Linked DNA regions of Homo sapiens: region 2 is linked to region 1. Evidence: fine-mapped expression QTL. A gene starts in region 1. The other region holds a variant in brackets. All regions are shown on one strand. Distances are between the middles of the regions.

Evidence for each region.
Region 2: its variant is fine-mapped to the expression of FBXO48 in transverse colon (GTEx, PIP above 0.99).

The regions. Positions count from the first base shown.
Region 1 is chr2:68,464,126-68,474,854 of GRCh38, reverse strand. FBXO48 (F-box protein 48) reads left to right here and starts at 7,561. Exons shown (of 4, transcript NM_001024680.3): 1 at 7,561-7,644; 2 at 8,385-8,711; 3 at 9,677-10,015; 4 at 10,485-10,729. The coding sequence starts at 9,710. The coding sequence ends at 10,646. It overlaps APLF (aprataxin and PNKP like factor), which reads right to left and starts at 7,270. Exons shown (of 10, transcript NM_173545.3): 1 at 7,028-7,270. The coding sequence starts at 7,123. RefSeq lists a silencer at 6,986-7,195 and enhancers at 6,537-7,431, 7,432-8,327, 8,421-8,480.
Region 2 is chr2:68,070,025-68,080,753 of GRCh38, reverse strand. No RefSeq gene overlaps it. Among named protein-coding and RNA genes, the nearest start is that of C1D, 12 kb to the right of the region's middle. The variant G/A (reference allele first, on the strand shown) is at 6,331.

The DNA.
Region 1 (10,729 bases):
CTCTATTAAAAATACAAAATCAGCCGGTTGTGGTGGCACATGCCTATAATTCCAGCTACTCAGGAGGCTGAGGCAGGAGAATCTCTTGAACCCAGAAGGCAGAGGTTGTGGTGAGCCAAGATCGCACCATTGAACTCCAGCCTGGGCAACAAGAACAAAACTCCATCTCAAAAAAATACAGATACCCAGACACTACCTACAGAACCAAATTACCAAAGAAAGGAACTCATACAAAAGTATGAAGACATGTGAGAAGATAGCATATTCATGGTAAGTAGTAAATGGGGGATGAAAATTTGAAGGCATTAATTCAGGGGAAGATATATATAATTGTAAAATATAGTCTTTGTCCCTGTTGCCTGGCATAACCACTAAAATCCTCAGAATCTCCCAAGTGATGTCTTTTTGTATGCTAATGAGTTAAGTGACATCTAGCAGCCCCTAGATAGCTTCAGGGTGGGAGCTAGTCACTGGAAAGACCAAGGTATAGAGAATTGGGACTTTCAGCCCCAAGCCCCAGCCTCCTCTAGGGAGACGAGAGGGGCTAAAGGTTAGCTGATCACTAATGCCCAATGGTTTAATCAATCATGACTAAATAACGATGACTCCATAAAAACCCAAAGGGGACAGGGTTAGGAAAGCTTCCAAACAGGTGAACATGTAGAGGTTTCTGGAGGGTGGCACACTTGGTGAGAGCATGGAAGCTCAGTATCCCTTCCCATAGCTTACCCTATGCATCTCCTCATCTGTATCCTTTGTCATATCCCTTATAACAAACCAGTTCTAGGAGCTGCTCTAGCAAATTAATAGAGCCCAAGGAAAGGGCCATGGGATCCCTGGTTTACATCCAGTGGTTCAGAAGCACAGGTAAAACAACTTGGGGCTTGCAATTGCCATCAGAAGTGGGGGGAAATCTTGGGAACTGAGCCCTCAACATGTGGGAGCTGATGCTATCTCCAGATAGATGGTGTCAGAATTAAATTGAATTAGAGGACACCCAGTTGATGTCTGCTGTAAAAGTGACCGCTTGCTTGTTGGTAGGGAGAAATAACCACATATTCAATCACAGGAGTCTTCTGTGTTGACTGCTGTATTTTTGTCCACTCAAAATATACATATGAAAAGTGATTTACCTCACATCTATTAGAATGATCAAAATTTAAAACACTGATAACACCAAATGTTGATAAGGATGTCCAGTGACAAGAACTGTCACTCATTGCTGGTGGGAATGCAAATAGTACAGCCACTCTGGAAGACAGTTTGGCGGTTTCTTACAACACTAAACATACTATTACTATACAACTTTACTATCCAATCCAGCAACTGTGCTCCTTAGTATCTACCTAAATGAGTTGAAGACCTACGTTCACACAAAAATCTGCACCCAAATGTTTGTAGTTGTATTATCCATGATCACTAAAACTTGAAAGCAACCAAGATGACCTTTAGTAGGTGAATGGATAAACCGACAATGGAATATTATTCATCACTAAAAAGAAATGAGCTATCAAGCCATGAAAAGACTTGGAGGAACCTTAAATACATATTACTAAGTGAAACCTGAAAAGGTTATGTACTGTATGACTCCAACTCTATGACATTCTGAAAAAGGCAAAACCATGGAGAAAGTAAAAGAATTCAGTAGTTGCCAGGGGTCCTGGGGAGCCTCTGGGGGATGAATAGGCAGAGCACAGAAAATTTTAGGGCAGTGGAACAACTCTGTGTTATACTGCAATGGTAGATAAATGTCATTATACATTTGTCAAAACCCATAAGATGTACAATACCAAGAGTTAACCCCAGTGTAAACCATGAACTTTGGGTGATAATGACATGTCAATGTGGATTCATCAATTCCAACAAACATACCATACTGTGTAGAATGTTGATAGTCGGGGAAGCTGTACATGTAAGAGGGCAGAGAGTATATGGGAACTCTCTGTACTTTCCACTCAGTTTTGCTGTGAACCTAAAACTCCTCCATAAAATAAAGTCTATTTTAAAAACTAATATATTAAAAAACAATGTTTGTAAAAGTTAAACGGGATCATTGACATAATGTGATCATCCCACAAGCCTGGTCAACACCTACCCAATTATCCAACACACCATATCTTAGAGCCTTAAACCACGCAAGCCCTTCCTTACACCACCCACTCCACCTACCAAAATTCTAACTGTCCCAACACACCACAGTCAAACTCAACATGCTACCAAGTTCATGAAGCTTTCTTTCCCTGATCCCACCTCTTAACTTCAGGTTCCTTCTTATACCTCTCTGTACCCTGTGACATCATTCTGTCTAGCTTGAGGACTAAGCTCTGATTATTATTTTTTTTTATCTTGCCCAAATTCCTTTCTAAGGGGTCTGGGGAGTCATGCCCTACAAACCATAAATTCTCATCAGATGAGTTTTATTTAACCCTGTATAACGTGACTTACTTTCCAGTCTGACTCAGGCATAACAAGGAAGAAAATCAAAATGTTTTACCCTAAAATATATTTCTTTGCCATACCTTGGAACTGTCCTGCAAAGTCTCTTGTGGGAAAAACCCACATTCTATAGAGAATTCCCTTTCCCCTTTGTTTTCCTTCCTTCCTTTCCAGATCCAGGAGATAATCAATTAAGAGCCAGGCACTCTTTCAGGTCTCATAAGAAACATTTTACAACCTGCTATCTCTGAAGTCCGCTATCTGAGAGCTCTGCAAAATAAAACTTCGTCTCCACAATCCTTTATCTTAACCTGAACATTTCCTTTGATCTTAGGTCTTGAGATAAACTCAACTAATTGTCAACCAGAAAATGTTTAAATTTACCTATAGCCTGGAAGCCCCTGCTTTGGGTTGTCCTGCCTTTCTGAACCAAACCAATGTATTTCTTAAATGTATTTGATTGATGTCTCATGCCTCCCTAAAATATATAAAAACCAAGCTGTACCCTGACCATCTTGGGAACATGCTCTCAGGACCTCCTGAGGGCTGTGTCACGGGCCATGGTCACTCATATTTGGCTCAGAATAAATCTCTTGAAATATTTTATAGAATTTAACTCTTCATCAACAGACTCATGGTATTTAACCAAAACTTTTAATAAAAATGTGACCTTTTAAAAATCAGTGATTATATCTAAAAATTCAAATTTCTTACTATTCTTAAAAAAACAATATGACACTGTTACCAACTGGGAATAGGGGAAAGTAGCAGGGATTGCATAGAGACCCTCTCCTTGTGGCCTTCCCAACACTGAGGCAGAACTGTTGTCATTTATCACTGTCCCTGTGTTGTTTTTCTTCTTCCCTCCCACTTCGCTTACTCCAAGTGTCAGCCTGGCGCCAGTCCCCATGTGAGGTTGTAGCCTTATTTAGTTACTAATACTTGTTTATTTGTCTCTTAACCCTACAAAACTATAAGTTTCTTGAGAGCAAAGACTTGTTTCTCATTCACCTTTATTTCTCCTATACTCCCTCCCATCCAACCATAGTATATATTTATCAGCTATTTCCTGAATTTAGCGAATTATCAATCAACAAAACAGGAAAAATGTTAAAACTTAATTCATTATGAATGCTACTCAAGATTTAGCAGTTGGTAGGACTGCATCTTTACTATATTTAAATTCACTTCAAAACTCAATGATAACCCTTTTTCATATCTAAGTCACAATTAGGCTCTTTTTGAGGGTAGAGTGAATGAGAGGCTGAGATGCCGAAATGGAAGGAAGAAATCACGTGTTAAAGGCCTACTGTGTGCTAGGCACTGGTTGTAGGCTAAATAATAAAATGAGGGAAGGGCAAATCTAGAAATAAAAGAAACGTAAGGGAAGAAACCTATGTTGGAGCAGGTAGGAACAGCATTCCAGGACAGCCAGGATTCTGCAACAAGCAGTTAAAAGTATAGAGCTGCCAGGTCAGGGGATGGTTACTTTGTGTAAACTTTGTAGAACATTTACAACATTCTTAGAAGTGGTGAACTGATGCCACCTGAAGAGTCTATACTGAAGCCTATGACCTTCCCTGTTCCCCCAACTGAGGACTCTTCTCCTTTTAATCAAAGCAGTCAATTTAATTACATCTACATTGAGAAAGTATCACTAGATATCTTTTGCTATCTTGTTTCCTAGGAGGAAAATAGATCATAAAGAAATGTGTCATATAATCCCTGCTGTCAAAACAAAATAAGAAAAATCTGAAATCAGAAATAGTAGATTTCATTTAAGAGTGTAACAGCTTTAATTAAAACCCATAAAGCAAATACTTTGGCCTAACAGTGCTTGACATGTCGTACTGTAAAACCCTTTTAAATTAAATTTCTTAAGATAATGGTAGATTCACATGTAGTTGAAAGATATAATATAGAAATATCTCTTGTACCATTTATCCAGTTTCCCCTAATGGTAACGTCTTACAAAACTATAGTACAATATATCAACCTAAGATATTGATACTGACACAGTCCAGACAAAGCACATTTCTATCACCACAAATATCCCTCATGTTGCTATTTTATAGCCATATCCATTCCCTTCTGCCCTGCTGCCTAATTTTTTAACCTTTGGCAACCACTAATCTGTTCTCCATTTTTGAAATTTTGCAATTTCGCAATTTCAATGATGTTATATAAATGGAATCACACAATATGTAATCTTTTGGATTGGCTGTTTTAACTCAAGTTCTCTGAAGATTAATCCTGCTGTAAAACCTTCTAACTGATGCCAATCATGGAGCAGAATCAAAATCTAGTAAACAAAGACCTGGGGTTCTCTGATGACTCACATGAAAGCAAAGGGAACAAGAAAGATTAAATTTCATTGTCCTTTGTTCTCTGTGACAGGTTTCTCTGTTGTGTTTTCCTACCACCATAAAAATACAAAACCATTCTCATTGTCAAACTGTTTTACTACCAAGACTATTTTACACAGTCAGATTATAAACTTTTATGTTTGTGTGGCCATCAAGGTTTGTGAAGCTTGTCTCAGAAAAACATGCCCAATTAAGAAAGTTCAAAATCATCCTTATTTATATTAATCGTTTCCGATTCCAATTTACAATGAACTTACTGAGTTTTCCACTTAGAACTCAGTCTTCGCTCTCTCACAATACAAAAATAAATCTCACTGGAATTGCTGTTGTTGGAAACAGGAGCCCTTATGTTGTGTTTTAACCAGTGCAGAGAAGAATCGAGTGCATCTGTCAGCTCCAAAATCGAAAAAACTACAAGGCGATTTGTTTGTTCTCCAAATTTTTCCTTTAACACACTTAGGATGTCATTCATAACCACTTCTGATACACGCCAACCTTGGCAAAAGAATCTCATCCCTGAATGTTATTTCAAAAGGAAAAGCAAAATCTTGACCAGGTAATTGCCCAGCTTTCACTCCTTACCATTTTTAAAAACAGATACCAAATAGGCTCATCTCACATTAGCAAGTCGACAACACAAAGAACAAGCTACAAATAATGAAACGGTCTGCAATCTGTTGCCATGTTTCTAAACCACGGCCCTAAAATTCATCCACCTTTTAACCAGACCCACAGTACTCTACTGGTGACAATTTCTTAAGCAAGTCAAAACTCGTTAGTCACCAGACATATGATTACTAGATTAAGCACATACTCTTAAGTTTCAAACCTACGAATTTAAAAGAAAAATAAAGCCTCCAGACAGTTCCTTCCAGTGTTTGTATAGGCCAACAAACGATGAAAAAAATAGAAATGATGTTAAATATTTAAATAATCACTTGTCCAGTAAAAAAATGAACAGCAATTGAATATCTACTTCCTCAATAACCTTACCACATGCACATGTGCATGTACACAACACACAACACACAACACACACACACACACACACACACACACACACCCCTTTAGGACCAGCTTCCATAATACAATCTTAAACTACCACTCCTTTCCCTGCTCCCAGAAGGGACCTAAGGCAAGTACCAATGGTTCCATTTAGACTCTGGAAGTTAACCAGGACAACAGTACACACTCCTTACTCCTTGGTGTTAGCTCACTGACACAGGTGTCTCCCCGGTCCCAAGAGAAAACTCCTAAAGGGTAGGGACCCATGTTCCATTCATCTTTGTATGCCCCACAGTGCTAGAATCTGCAAAATGTTCTACACAGTGAGCACCAAACAAGAAATGTTGAATGTTAAAGAACAAAATAGAAAACTAGATGTACTTAAGAGATCTATAGAATTCCAGAATGCAATATGCAAATGTTCTTATTCCTAAACCTCTCCCAAAGAAGGTAGAGAATATTTAGCTTTGTGGCATTATGTGTCCAAAAGCTTATGTATGGACTTTAAATAATGTATGTATGGCTCAATTTTCTCATCTGAACAATGAGGATAATAAAAATAGCTAACTGATACGGTCTTGAGACAGTTAAAGATGTTGGTATAGGTAATGTCTCCTTAGACCAATGACACGAACGCTATACACATTACTTATGAAGGGTTAGCTACTCATTTTACTGGAAATAATAAATAATATAAATAAATAAGGTCCACACAGCTCTGCAAAGGAGACCAAAGGTTAAAAGAAATTAGCCTAGAAGACGTAATATCACAGTTTGGCAAACTTTTCTGTAAAGGACCAGACACTACTGTAAATATTTTAGGCTTTACAAGACAAGCCGCAATACCCTCAACCCTTGGAGCAACTATTCCCCCTGAAAAATTAGTAGATTTTTTGTTTACATTTTACATTTCAGAATTTAAGAATCATTCTTAGTTCATGGGGCCATACAAACATAGGCTGGATTTGGCCCCCAGGCACTAGTTTGCCAATCCCTGGATAAGATAATAATGGTAATACAGTCAGTGTTTTAAAAGCAACATAAAGAAATGTTTGTGAATTGGCTTAAAGGTAACTGAAAAACGTGCGGCCCCAAACTTCTAAAATCCGGACCGGCGGACCAGTGCGGTGGGGAAACCGGCCAGGACTAGGGCCGGTCTTCAGGAGCCGGCGCGGAACTCCACGGCTCTCGGGGTCCGCTAAGCCCCCGCCCACACTTACTCCCAGCAGCGGCCCGCGGCCGATCACCGTCTCCCCGGGCGCCAGGGCCACCCGGGGACCGCCGTCCCGCGGCTGCAGCTCGAAGCCCCCGGACATGGCGGGCAAGGATTAGGCCCCTTCGCCAGGAGACTGGCCCCTCCGCTGTTTCCGCCCTCCACAGACACGCGCGGGGCAAGCCCACGCCCTGGGAAAAAACACCGAGGGAGGGCCTCAAAGGCTCCCCGCGGCTGCGCCGGTCCTCTCAGAGCCCGGCCCCAGCGCAGCTTCACGAGTCCCGCCCCTCCACGCCTACTAATGACGCAACCGGGGATTCCCCAGTCTCGCCGCCTCAAAACTACTGTTTAAAAACCCCGGCTTATTCCCCAACACCCTTTTCACCTCCCTCCCATCTTGGAGGACGCCGGGCCTTGTAGTCCTGGTGGCTTTCTTCACTTCCTTTCCCGAGCGGAGACGCCCTGGAAAAAACTACCAATCCCCAAAGGCACTGCGCGCCCCTCTCGGCGCCTGCGCGAGTTCTGAGCAGGGCGGGACTCAGGTGGGCGGGATGCGAAGAGCTATGGGGAAGGATTCGAATTCCGGTGGATTTAAATCGCGGGAGGAGAAGCTACCGCGGCCTAGTAGGTAGAAGGGTCTTCCGTTCCCGTTGGCTTAGGTGTCTACGCTCCCGGGGACGCGGCCTGGACGCAAGCTCAGCCTTCCCTCCGCGGCCTGGAGCCGCAGTGACAGTCAACGCTGACGGTTGTTGTCACTTGTCAGTGCCCTGTGTTCTTGGGTTCCAGCAGCTGCAACCCGCGCGGGACACAAGGAGGGTGGCTCAGACGGGACGTGGGGTGATTAGCCCTGACCCGCGGGATTTGGACGGAGTGGGGCTCCCCGCCCCTCCGACTGCGCTGCCGCCGATCTATCCCTCCGAATGATAGTTGAAAGGGGGACGAGCTTTTACTTCACTTGAGAGAGAATTCAGGAAAGCTCAGTTCATAAAGGAGAAAGGGCAGAAGAGGGGTCGTTTCCAGGCATCCAGGCGAACCTGGACGTAGAAGAAAGATTCCTAGTGGGATTTTAGAAACTCGCAAAGGTATCCCCTGCTGTGAAATTCAAAAGCCTTCATTCCCGTTACAGGAATTCCACAAGGGGACGCATTTTATTCTCCCAGTAAGATCCTGGGAGAAGTGGATAAACACACTGTAACGTTTAAATGCACTGTAACGTTTTCCTAATGTGAGATTCTTTTCAAGAACGTTGTGGTTTGGCTTTGGTTTGTATTGGTGGTGGGAGGGGCCAAGGTGCATGGCAAAAACTTGCTCTTGACTCACCCGTTTTTACGTTTGCTTTCTTACTTCTCCTAACCCTCAAGAAGAAGACCTCTGTTGAACACAGACTGCAGTTCCAGCCACCACAGCTAATCTGGATCATGAATGGGAGCCACCGTGGTCTTGGCAAGTCCGAAAACATAGCTGAGTAGCTCGTCTAGAAAAGAGATTTGTGTTCAGCTGAGTTAAAAGAAGTATTTACCTCAAACCTCTCCTCTTGCACAACCAACCCCCGTTATAAAAGGAAGTGCAAAATGGAATAAACTGATTTTAAGTGAATACAAGCTGTCTTTATATACAAAAGTAACTCAAGGATGGTGATGTACCCAGTCATGCTTTCAACTGATTTGGGAAGCCTACACCATTCACCTTAGGTAAATTAGCTGAAACTGAGCTTTAAATCTGGGCTTCAAAGAGTCACATACTGTACCTAGCTGAGTTCTAAACATTGTTTACAGTTGTCACTCACTGTTGCTTGATGTCTTCAGTGACTATTATCCTTAGCTTGTAATTATGCATGTAGGATAGCTTCAAGGGGCCATTTCTAAAACACTACTCTTATGACTGAGTTGAATATTTGAGACTTTGTTTCATAATCCAGATCTCATCTTCTTGTCCATTTCAGATAGTAGTTGTGTCAAATGTAAGCACCTACCTACCTATAAGATACAAGTAGATAAAATTCTTATATAAACAACTAGAAGTCCAGCAAGTTTATGATTAAGTCACAAATTGCAAATTAATGATGAGGCATCAGTTCCCATGTACAACAAGTATTCAGGAGTTTAATAGGATTGACTCATATACATTTTCAAAGGTACAAAAGTACCGGGTATGGTGGCTCATACCTGTCATCCCAGCACTCTGGGAGGCTGAGGCAGAAGGATTGCTTGAGGACAAGAGTTCAAGACCAGCCTGGACAACATAGCAAGAACCATTTCTCCGTAAAACAGTTTTTGGTTTTCTGTTTTTTTTTTTTTCTTTTTTTTTTTTTTAAAGAGGGGCGGGGTACGCTGAGTCAAGAGAATCGCTTGAGGCTGGAGTTTGAGGCTGCAGTGAGCTATTATGACACATCTGCACTCCAGCCTGGGTGAGAGTGAAACTAACATGTTGGGTGCCTCCCATGTGCAATTCAGATGTAGCAAGACTAGATATTTTACCCACTATCACTGTTAATCCTTGCAAGAACTTTCAGGAGAGCGGCAGCATTGGCCCATTTTACAGATTGAGAAGCTAAAGTCAAGAAAGAGTTCTTAAATTATACCCAAAAAGCATCTGACTTAAAGTAGGATTTATACTCCTATTTGGAGACTGAGCATGTTTAAATTTTGCCTTTTAGGTTACATATGAGGATAACTTAAAACATTAAGCTATGCATAAAAACTCCAAGAGAAACAATAATTTAAGAGTTTCTCACACAGAAGCGAACTCTGTGGATGCTGAGAAGGAAAAAAATGAGAGTCAAAACAACTTTTTTGAACTGCTGCCTGCAGAAATCACTTTTAAAATTTTCAGTCAGCTGGACATTCGGAGTCTGTGCAGGGCTTCATTGACATGCAGGAGCTGGAATGACACAATAAGAAACAGTGACTCTTTATGGAAACCTCACTGCATGACTGTAAGAGCTGTGTGCCGAAGAGAAATAGATGATGATCTAGAAAGTGGTTATTCCTGGAGGGTAAGTTTAATCTTTGCGATCTGCAGTGTTGTTGACAGCGTTATGATAGCAGGTTTGCGCCAATTCTAACTTCTGCTTGGAGGAGTCAGAATTACATATGCAGAATAACACAGACAGTGTGTTGACTCTTGGAAATGAGTTAAAGTTATTAGTCTTTTCCTGCTAACCACACTGTTTCCACACTATCTTTCATTTATCCTTTTGCATTTTTAAAATTCTAAATTCGGGAATTTTCCTGCGTTAACCAGAAGGGAATTAGCTCCTTCTTTCCACTTCACCTTATGCCACTCAGTATAAATACACATATACATACACACACGTACACAGACACATACATTTATTAATGTACGTATATATAAATGTAAATACTCTTTTTTTCAGCCCTGTCAATCTGCTTCTCTTGCTTTAAACACATTCACTAACCAACCACCTACTACAGTCTTTTTTAACGGTGATTTACCTCTTTCAGGTGATACTGCTGAGGAATTACCAGAAGAGTAAAGTGAAACACGAATGGCTAAGTGGCAGATACAGCAACATTTGTTCTCCCATTAGCCTACCAGAAAAAATCATGTACCCAATGGATGCAGATACATGGGGGGAAATTCTAGAAGCAGAACTGGAAAGATAAGGGGAAAAAAAATCACAAATCTCAGGTCTTTGAAAGTTTAAAACTTAAATGACTCTTAGGTTGCAAAAGCGATATCTTTATTC
Region 2 (10,729 bases), 390 kb after region 1:
CACTCTACTTTTCCTTTACATAAAATACTTTGTTTCTGACTGCAGAGAATTAACTATGTTATCAATGAGATTAAGCCAATTTTTGGTAATTTAGATTTTCAAACCCATTATCTCTTATACACAGATGCAAGTATTTTACTCTAGGGATAGGGGCTTTACAGAAAATCTACCAAAGGATGGGGCCCTCTTCATTAATAGCTATTTATTTTCCAGTTAATAAAGATCATAGCATACACTGCACCACAGCACAGTACATTGTATAAATTACTACAAATGTCTCCACTTAAAGATTGCCAGGGCCAAGCATAATGGCTCACGCCTGTAATCCCAGCACTTTAGCCTGGGTTTCTGTGTTCTTCCCTTTTGGATAGCCTGAAAAAACAAACATAAAGGTATCAGAATGATCACATTATAACTGGGTAAGGGCCTGTGTTGAACTTCCCTTAGGCCTGAGTGTAGGTTTATGTACATCCCTGCCTTCTATGGAAACATAACTATGGGAAGATTGAAAGTTGGCCATTTTTGTCATCTGTTTCTGGGAGTCTTTCTTATGACACAGTGCTCCACAGAAGGAAGAAAATCTCTGTACATAGTTTGTGCCTCTTGTTTGCATCTTTCTTGAGTCTTTTTTCTTTTTTAATTGGCTGCCAATTCTCATTAGCTGCTTTATTTCTTCAATTCTTTATATATTTATATTACAGGAAAAGTAGAAACATAAGGTTCTTTGCCTTCCAAATATTACCGGTGTTCCTATAGTTATAAGGTTATGTAGGCCATTTTGTTAAAAAAAAAAAAACTGACTACTTAGAAAATTAGCCTGCCCTCCAACTTCTCTCCCATCTTCACTCTAGAGTCTATCATCTTTTAACAGGCATTTTCCTTTCAAGTGCTATGAGAAGGGGTGGGGAGCACATATTGACTACGAAGTGCAATCATAAATATTGCAAAGGATGTTAGACTTCATTTAATTGAGCAAAGTGATGGACAAAATGGAAAGTCATAGACAGTGAGGATATGGCAGACTCAAGAGCAGTTACTGTTAAAGAAGAGAAAATCTACGAGGATTATGACAAGGATTGTGTGCTTTCAAGAAAGGAAGATTTGTGTTTCAGGGGATTAAGAGAGGCTCTTGGGAAAATTGGTACAGCCTTCACATATTTCTGCAGAGATGAATCTCTTTATGACTGTGCTGCTAAACTGAATGAAGAATATCATATCAGGTCATCTAATAATTTTTAATAAATTTTATTTTAGAATAATTTTAGATTTATAGTGCAAAGATAATACAGAGTTCCTGCCTATCCCTTATCTAGTTTTCTCCAATGTTAACATCTTAAATTACCATGGTATATTTGTCAAAACTAAGAAACTGACATTGGTATATTACTATTAACTACACCCCCGATTGTATTCAGATTTCACTGATTTTTCTCCACGAATGTCCTTTTTCTCTTCTAGGATCAAATCCAGGCTACAGCATTGCATTTAGCACCTAACAATTTTGTCATAAAAATTTTATATAACAAAAATCCCAATCAACATTTGATTCAGTCTTTATTTATTTTAATAATTAAAGAGTTGCAGTTATAACCAGAATTTTGTTAAATGATAAATTTTTAGTAATATCTTAAATTTCAATTTTCAAATTGGAGTACAAATCAAATCATTTCTTATACAAGCTACTATGAAATTTTGCTTCCCATTTGTAAAAAAAAAAACTTTAATTGACTTCCATCATACTCACTCACCTTGGACAACTACAAAAATTGTTAGAAGTGCTTTATTAAAATATTTAAAACAACATGTTATGAGGATCTATGGATGAAAAGAATAAGTGAGTTTGATTTCTGCATAGTCAGTGGAACTCTGTAATATGCAGTCTTTGAGATATACAAAATAATTTAATAAAGCAAAATAGTTTTGATGCATTATAGAAGCCTCAGATGAATACCCCGATAGTACTGCATTATCAGATGTTCATTACTCTCTTGTTGCACAAATGTATACCTTCAAACAGGTATGCAGCATTATAGAAAAAAAAGAGTCTTTCATTAATTTCAGGAGTATTCAGAAATGGCTCTGGTTTCCTAATTAAAAGATAAATTGAATCTAACAGAAATGAGCTGCAAATGACTGCTAGTAAGCTTGAGAGTTAAATTTATAAAAAGCCTGTGACTTTTAATGTATTAAAAAGTGAAAGAAAGACTTGCTCTTGACTTCACTAAAAACAGCATGTCCTTAAAGATTGTAAGTACTGATAGGATTTTTCCACTAATAAGCAGAAGGCTCTTTTGACATTTTAATAAGATTATATTCTTATGTTCTTTTGGACCAAGATTAATATTATATTGTTCTTTGAGTAAGATATTTTTTCTTTGTAAATGTTTGTGTCTTCTAAATGCAGTCATTTTCAGAATTTAAAAAATTCACTTTATACAGGATCTATAATATTATTTAAAGATAAATTCCCCAGTAGGACTTACATACACCCAAAAAACGAAAACAAACTTATCCTGTAGAAATAATTCCTTGTACTTCAACAATGTCACTTTTAGACCATGCTCCAGTGGATAGGTAGCTTATATATTGGAAGTAAAGCAAATCTAAATTTTTTACTTTGATAAAATATTCTCATTATGTCTTAGAGAATTAACATTTTCCAAGAAGCCAAACTCACTTCTCCGTTATATATTTTTACTGAATGTGGCAGTTAGTACCATCAAATTGTTGTGTGTCATACAATTGTTACGGATTCAATTGAATGCCCCCAAAATTCCTATGTTGAGGCCCTAACCCTCAATGTGACTGCATTTGGAGATAGGGCCTTTAGGAAGTAATTGAGGTTATATGGCATGTAAAACTGGGGCCCTCATCCAGTAGGACTGGTATCCTTATGAGAAGAGGAAGAGAAACACTGAGATCTCACTTACTCTGTGCATGTGCAGAGGAGAGGCCATGTGAGGAGGACATGGTGGGAAGGTGGCCATCTGCAAGCCAGGAAGAGAGGCCTCATCAGAAACCAACATGACGGCAACTAGATCTTGAACTTCTATCCTACAGAACTGTGAGAAAACAAATTTCTGTCGTTTAAACCACCCAGCCTGTGGTATTCTGTTATGGCAGCCTGAGCAGGTGAATACAGCAATATATGTTTATTTCTCTGGAGCCTGAAGGGTTCGGCTAAGTTGTACTACCTGCTGATCTTGGCTGGGTTCACTCATGTACCTAGGGAATGGGCCATGAGTCAGCTGTGAGTTGAGGGTCATCTTGGCTGGACAACTCAGGTTTGTTCCATGGGTCCCTCATCCTCCTGCTGGGACACTGTGCTAGCTGGGCTTATCCTTCTTACTGGGATGGCAGAAGCACAACACGGCAAGTCCACATTTTTAAGCCTCTTCTTGTATCACATCTACTATTACCCCACTGGCCAAAACAAGTGAAGTGATCAAACTTGGAATCAAGGGGTGGGAAAATATACTCTTCCTGCTGATGGGAGGAACAACGAAGTCATATGGCAAAAGACATAGTCAAAGAGAGGGCTGAAAGCTCATCAGTCAATGAGCTGTTTGTTTAAACTATTTGATTTTTTCATAACAGTGGCCTAGCTTACCTACAATGCTGAAAATTCAGTAGAGCCTGGCCTTATAAGAAATCATATAAAAACATTTTCAAATCCTTAAATTTATAAGATATAGCACCTAATTATTGGCATAAAATTTAGGAAAAACATTACTGAGAACTGTAATCCCTCCACCCTGACTTCAGCCTTTTAATTGTTTTATAACTCCTACACTGGTGGGAGTTTAAAAAAAAAGGTTAATATGTGGTGTGAAACTTTGCATAGGAAACACACGATGTTTTAGAAAGGATTCAACAGCAATTCAGACTTGTACAAACTTTTTTTGTGAAATTATTCATGTGATAAACAATTTTGGCACTAGCTAGAATCATCAGTAGATAATTCTTCTGTATATGTGAACTCATTTATGTCTTAGATTTAGCTAATATGGAATTCTACATTACATTTTCTGATTTATCTACAAATCATATTTTCATACTAAGATTTATCCTTTAATTACATTTTCCATTTGATCTCTTCACTTTTACTACTTGCACCAGCAGCTAGATTTCTTTCTGGGGTCATTGTTCACACACACACACAAAACAATATTTATATTTTTCTAGAGCTACAACATATGAGATGCATAGAGAAGAACAGAAACCTGATAAAAAGGAGATGCTAGTTGGCAATCTAGGTACACTTTCTGTCTAAGTAGCTCTGAAAAATAGTTTTCCATTCATATTTTAGAAATAGTACATATTTGGCTCATATCTGCACTCACAGCACTCTGAGAGGCCAAGGTGGGTGAATCACTTGAGGTCAACAGTTCGAGACCAGCCTGGCCAACATGGTGAAACCCTATCTCTACTAAAAATACAAGAATTAGCTGGGTATGGTGGCACATACCTGTAATCCCAACTACTTGGGAGGCTGAGGGAGAATCGCCTGAACCCAGGAGACAGAGGCTGCAGGGAGCCGAGATTGCACCATTGCACTCCAGCATGGGCGACAGTGCAAGACTCTGCTAAATAATAATAATAATTTACAAGATTCAAGCATTTGAAAATTAAATTCAAATATGCCGAGAACTTCCGGAACATTTCCAAGTTGAATAGTTTAAAAGTAAGAGTTATTGTCCATATGATCTTTAGCAACATGCAGTAGCTAAGGATCAACTGAGAGTGTTAAAACACCTTACATTTTTATACTTTTCAGTGTACTCCCACATTCCTTTTCTTTTTTCCTCCAACAGTTCTCCCAACTGCTAGGCGAGGTGTCAGAGGCCTGGCATCAGAAAGTGGTTGACTCATGGGTTGGTAAAAGGATTTATCGACAACAGTATAGGTTTGAAAAGGAGTTTTATTAAATAGAAAGGATGCTGCAGAAGGGTGGAGCAGGCTGTCTCAGCAAGAGAGGACTGAGAGTGCCATGGTGGATTTTTCTTTAGGGGTACCTATGGACCTTAAAGCGGGAGCATAAGGGTAGTCTGGACCACGTAAGCCATGTAGGTCATGATAAATGATTACATTTGTAGATATTTTGGTGCCTTAATGTCAGCAAGGGTTGTACAATGAGTTTCTACATGCATGCATTCTGGAGATGTATAGAAATTCTCATTACTTACAAATTTTTGGGAAAGAAGCCTGGAACCAGATGCCTGCTTTGGATAATGGGGAAGTCTAATTACTTCTAAATTCCTCAGATAAGGTCACAGTCTTTGCATGGTCAGCTTGATGGCCACCAGGTGCTCTCTTCACTAACAAGAAACAAAAGTCTCACTTTTCCTTATAATTAGTAGGTCAGAAATCAACCATTTTATAGATTGATATAGGTTCAGTGCACTTCATTGAACCACACACCCCCACATTTTTGGTAAGATCCAGTCTCTGGACCCTGGATCAACTGGATCAAAGCTCTTTCCCTGAATACTCTTAAAAGTCAGTCCAGAAAACTCGGGTGTTTTTTTTGTTTGTTTGTTTTTGTTTTTTGAGACAGGGTCTCACTTTGTCGCCCAGGGCTTGGAATGCAGTGGCATGAACACGGTTCACTGCAGCTTTGACCTCCCAGGCTCAAGAGATCCTTCTGCTTCAGGCACTTCCCCATACCCCGCCCAAGTAGCTGGGACTACAGGTGTGTGCCACCATGCCCTGCTAATTTTTCTATTTTTTGTAGAGATGGGGTTTTGCCATGTTGCTCAGGCTGGTCTTGACATCCTGAGCTCAGGTGATCTGCCTGCCTTGGCCTCCCAAAGTGCTGGAATTATAAGTGTGAAACACCATGCCAGGACTTCAGGTTAGTCTTGATGTGGGAATGGTAGGAGGCAGTTTTGGAATTACAGCACATGTAGTTTACAGGAAGAGTTTACTTGGAGTAATAAATAAATATATTTATTTTCATTATGCCTATAAACATTGATTTTTTTAAGGGATGTTATTGTGTGGCAAGGCTTCAAGGGGTTTTTAAAGGAGTATGGCAAACCAATTTCTTAAATAAGCATTGCCTCTTCACAATTATCTTTTGAAATGGCTAATTCTAGAAAGGTTTTGAAATCTTGTCTTTAGTCCACTTTTTGATGTAAACCATTTGGGAAAATAAAGCACAGACAGGTGAAGATGAGTGAACAAATACAACTTTGCAGAGTTTTTAGAATAACTTTTGAGCTGACAACCTATCTTAAATTTTCCTACTCCACCTGCATGTTTCAAATGAATCAAATAGTCATGAACACCCAGACTAACAAACAAACAAACAAAAAGCAGCAAAAAGAG[G/A]AAGAAGCCCATTGTATTAGTCTGTTTTCATGTTGCGTGTTCTGTTTTCAGGTATGATAAAGACATACCTGAGAGTGGGTGATTTATAAAGAAAAAGAGGTTTCATCGACTCACAGTTCCACGTGGCTAGGGAGGCCCCACAATCATGGCAGATGGCAAAAGGCACGTCTTACATGGATGGCCATAGGCAAAGAGAGAGCTTGTGCAGGGAAACTCAACCTTATAAAACCATCAGATCTCATGAAACTTATTCACTATCATGAGAACAGCATGGGAAAGACCCATCCCATGATTCAATTACCTTCCACAACACGCGGGAATTGTGGGAGCTACAGTTCAAGATGAGATTTGGGTGGGGACATAGCCAAACCATATCACCCATTCATTCTCCTTATTGAGATTATTTAGACAAACCAAAGTGATGGTAACAGCATCAATTGCTCCTCTCATTCTTGGTTTCAAGATAGACAATTCTCATTATTGGGCTATCTTCCTAAGGATGTCATGGAACTTTAATCACTTCCGTTGAACTTATTTGCTGCTAAACTGTTGTTCTCTGGAACTTTGCTAATTCTTAGAGGAAAAGTTAAATCAGATAGAGTGGATTGACAATTGTCTTCTGAATAAGCAGGTCATGACACTCAGTGGGGCTAAGCCTTCATACAGGGATTTCCATCCCTCAGCTCCTGACTGTGTGAGAAAAGCCTGCTCTCCTGCAAGGATAGAAGATGGAAGGGGGTGAGGTGAGGCTAAGTGTTAAACCAGCTTTCACTTGCCTATTTGCTCTTAATACCCAACCAGAGAAGGGTGGGGGAGAGTGATTCAGCCACATTTGGCTCAACAATTAATAAGTGACATTAATTAATGAGTACATGCTTCCAACAGGGCCAAGTGGACCAATTCAGAGTTATCTTTGAATTCATGTTATATAGGAACAAAGCTTGATATTAGAATTCTTAACATTAGTATGGCCTGTGCTTTTCTTTTTAAAATTGGGGAGGATTATGGACAGTGACCATGGAAAACATTCTGCAAAGTAATATTATGAATACACAGGCTGTAACCTGTGGCACTTTTTTCACCCCAGGTCCTCAAGGTCAAAAAAACAAGACCAGAAGAATTCTTGTACGCAAACTATCCATAAAGCTAAACAACTGCCTGTCAGCCGAGGCTCGCTCTGCCTCTCATCTCCTGACTCCTCATGCTTTTTTCTTTTATTTTGTATTTCAAATTTATAGACAAGTTGCAAGAATAATAGGTTGGCACAAAAGTAATTGCGATTTTGGTAACTTTAATGGCAAAGTAATATAATGAACTCTGATATACTCTTCACCTGGATTTGCCAATTATGAACCAAACATTTTGCCACATTTGGTATCTCTCTCCACATATTATTACTATCATTAATACTACTATTAAAAATTTTCCTGAACTATTTGGGAGTAAATTGTAGACAATACCTCTCTATCACCAATCTAAATACTTCAGTTTGTATCTCCTAGGAGCAAGACTATGCTATAACATAACCACAGTACAATGATGAAATTCAGAAAATACTGATTTGAAACTATTATTCAATATGCAATCTATCTACAATGTTCTTCAATTGCTCCAATAATATTCTTTATAACGTTGTTTTTTTATTGATTTGGGAACCAATCCAGGATCACGCATTGTCTTTAGCTGTCATGTCTCTTACTTTTTAAATCTAGTTCTTCAGCCTTTTCTTTTTCTTTCATGACATTAACATTCTGAAATACATTCCAGTTTTTTGTTGTTGTTGTTTAAAGAATATTCAGCTGGCCATGATGGCACATGCCTGCAATTCCAGCACTTTGAGAGGCTGAGGCAGGAGGATCACTCATAGTACCAGGAGTTCAAAAGTAGCCTGGGCAACATAGTGAGACTCCGGCCCTCCAAAAACAAACAAACAAAAAACAAATAAAAAAAACCAACAAAAAACCTGGGCATGGCGGCACACCCCTGTGGTCCCAGCTCCTCAGGAGGCTGAAACTGAAGGAGCACTTTAGTCAAGGAGTTGGAGGCTGTAATGAGCTATGATCACGCCACTGCCCTCCAGCCTGGATGACACAGTGAGATTCATCTCTTAAAAAAAAACAACAAAATATTATTCCTTAATTTGAGTGTGTTTGATATTTCCTGAGGATCAGATTCAGGTAATACCTTTTTGGCAGGAATAATACATAAGCAATGTTATAGTCTTTCCTGGCATATCACAAAAGGAGGCACATGACATCAATTTGCCCCATTATGAGTGATGTTAACACAGAACTTGGTTCTATGTCTAGTTGGTTCTATGTCTAAGTTAGAACTTGGTTCTCTGTCTATGTTAACTTGGTTCTATGTCTAGCAGATTTATCTACTATAAAGTTAATTCAAAAATAATCTGTGATGATTTAAGGTGGTATAAATATCCTGTTCCCCATCAAACTTTCACACAATAATTTCAGAATCTATTAATGAGTCTCACCTAAGTCAATTATTGTTATGACATCTGTAAGATGGTGATTTTCTTATGCTATCACTCAGAAAATAAAAAGAATTCTAATATTTTATTCTGATATTGTTTGGGAGCCAATTTTGTTACTCATAATTTGAACACTAAGATTTAACAAACTTCCTAAATTCAACATCAGAAGTTTCTAATTTCTTCCTTTATAGTGATAACATAGTACTACTACTACTGTTACTAATAATGTTTATTAACATTTATTAAGTGTTTACTCTGTGCCTTGCACTAGGATTAACATTGAAACACATTGTCTCATTTGGTCCTCATAGTACCTAAGAAATAGATACCATTATTGTTTCTATTTTCCAGAAGAGGAAACTGAGGATCAGAGAAGTAACATTTTATTTTTCAGAGCAGTGCCCCCTGCCCCCAACCTTTTGTACTCCTAACACCATTTCAGTGTTTGGTTCCTGAAGGACTCAAATGACACAAGTTGTGACAGTTTGCATTAAAGCCTCATTATTAGGACAAACTGTCAGGTTCTGAGTTATTCTGAGTGATATTTAAGTCTTCCCAGGTCTTTAGTCTTTGTGGTGAAGTTTGTACCTAACTCCTTAGGACAACAGCACTACTCAAAGTATGGTCTATGGATAAGTGTGAGTCCGTGAGCTATTTGTTATTACCTCTCCACAAGATGAGTGCAGAAATTGAGAAGAATCACTTAGAGAATTTTATAGCGATTGTACATTGCTGAAACAATGGTGATCAGTGAACCGGTTATCTTGAATACGACAAAAATTAGTTTGGATGTTGCTGAACTCATATGGTGAGTCCCATGTTGTATGAACTGTGTACCAGTCATGTGCAGTAGGACTACATTAAAATTTGTGATATTTTCAGCTTAGTTTAGTAATCATATCCTAACAATGTATAAAATCTGGAATTGATTTATTTTATCAAAATACAATTTAAACGTAATGACAACTTTAAAGGATAAATTGTTGGAAATAGCAACTGATGAAGGACTAAATATGAATTCTGAAAATATGACATGATTTGTTTCATTTTAGTTAAAAATGAACATCCTTGGCTTGCTAAAACAGCTTTAAAATGTTCCCTGTTATTCCTATCAATGTAGTGATGGGAGACTGGTGCCGACTACAGTGTTAAAATAGAGGAGACATTTAAAATATATGCTATCCTCTGCAAGCTCTACAAGAAGCGCTGTCTTTAATCCAACTATACAGTAATCAGGAACGAGCCCATTTGCCACTTAAAAACTTTATTTTTTTTTTTTGCCTTTTAGAAATTTTATTGTGAAGTTTATATTTCATTTTATTATCTGATTTTAAGAATTGAAAAGTAAATAGCCCAAATAACAGTGTTGATTTTAATATATAATAAATAGTTTAGTTACCATACAATTGAAAGGTATTATTCAACATAATCATGAAATATATTTTCTCTTTTATGGTGACATGAATGTGAAAACTTAATTATTTTCCCCAACAAATTAGCAATTTAAAGCTCTTTGCCTTCCTTTTTTTTTCCAAGTGTAGTACATTTTTTTTATTTTCCAGTAAATCCTTATTTTCTGTGAACACTTGATATAATTATAGTTTTGTCATTCATTAGAGTACCAGGAATTTAACTAGCATTTGATAAGGATTAAATATAAATACTTTTTACATTGATATATTTATGCTTAAAAAAACAAAATGAAATCATTGTACTTTATAACTTGCTTTTTCTTTAACAACATACTATAGGATTTTTCTTTTATGTTGTTCTATTTTCTTTTAATAATTATGAATGGCTGCATAGATTCTCATCAATGAAACCATAGCTTATTAAGGCATCCACTCTATAGATCATTAAACTGCATTTAACACTCTATTTTTCTTCCTAATCAATAAAACCACAATT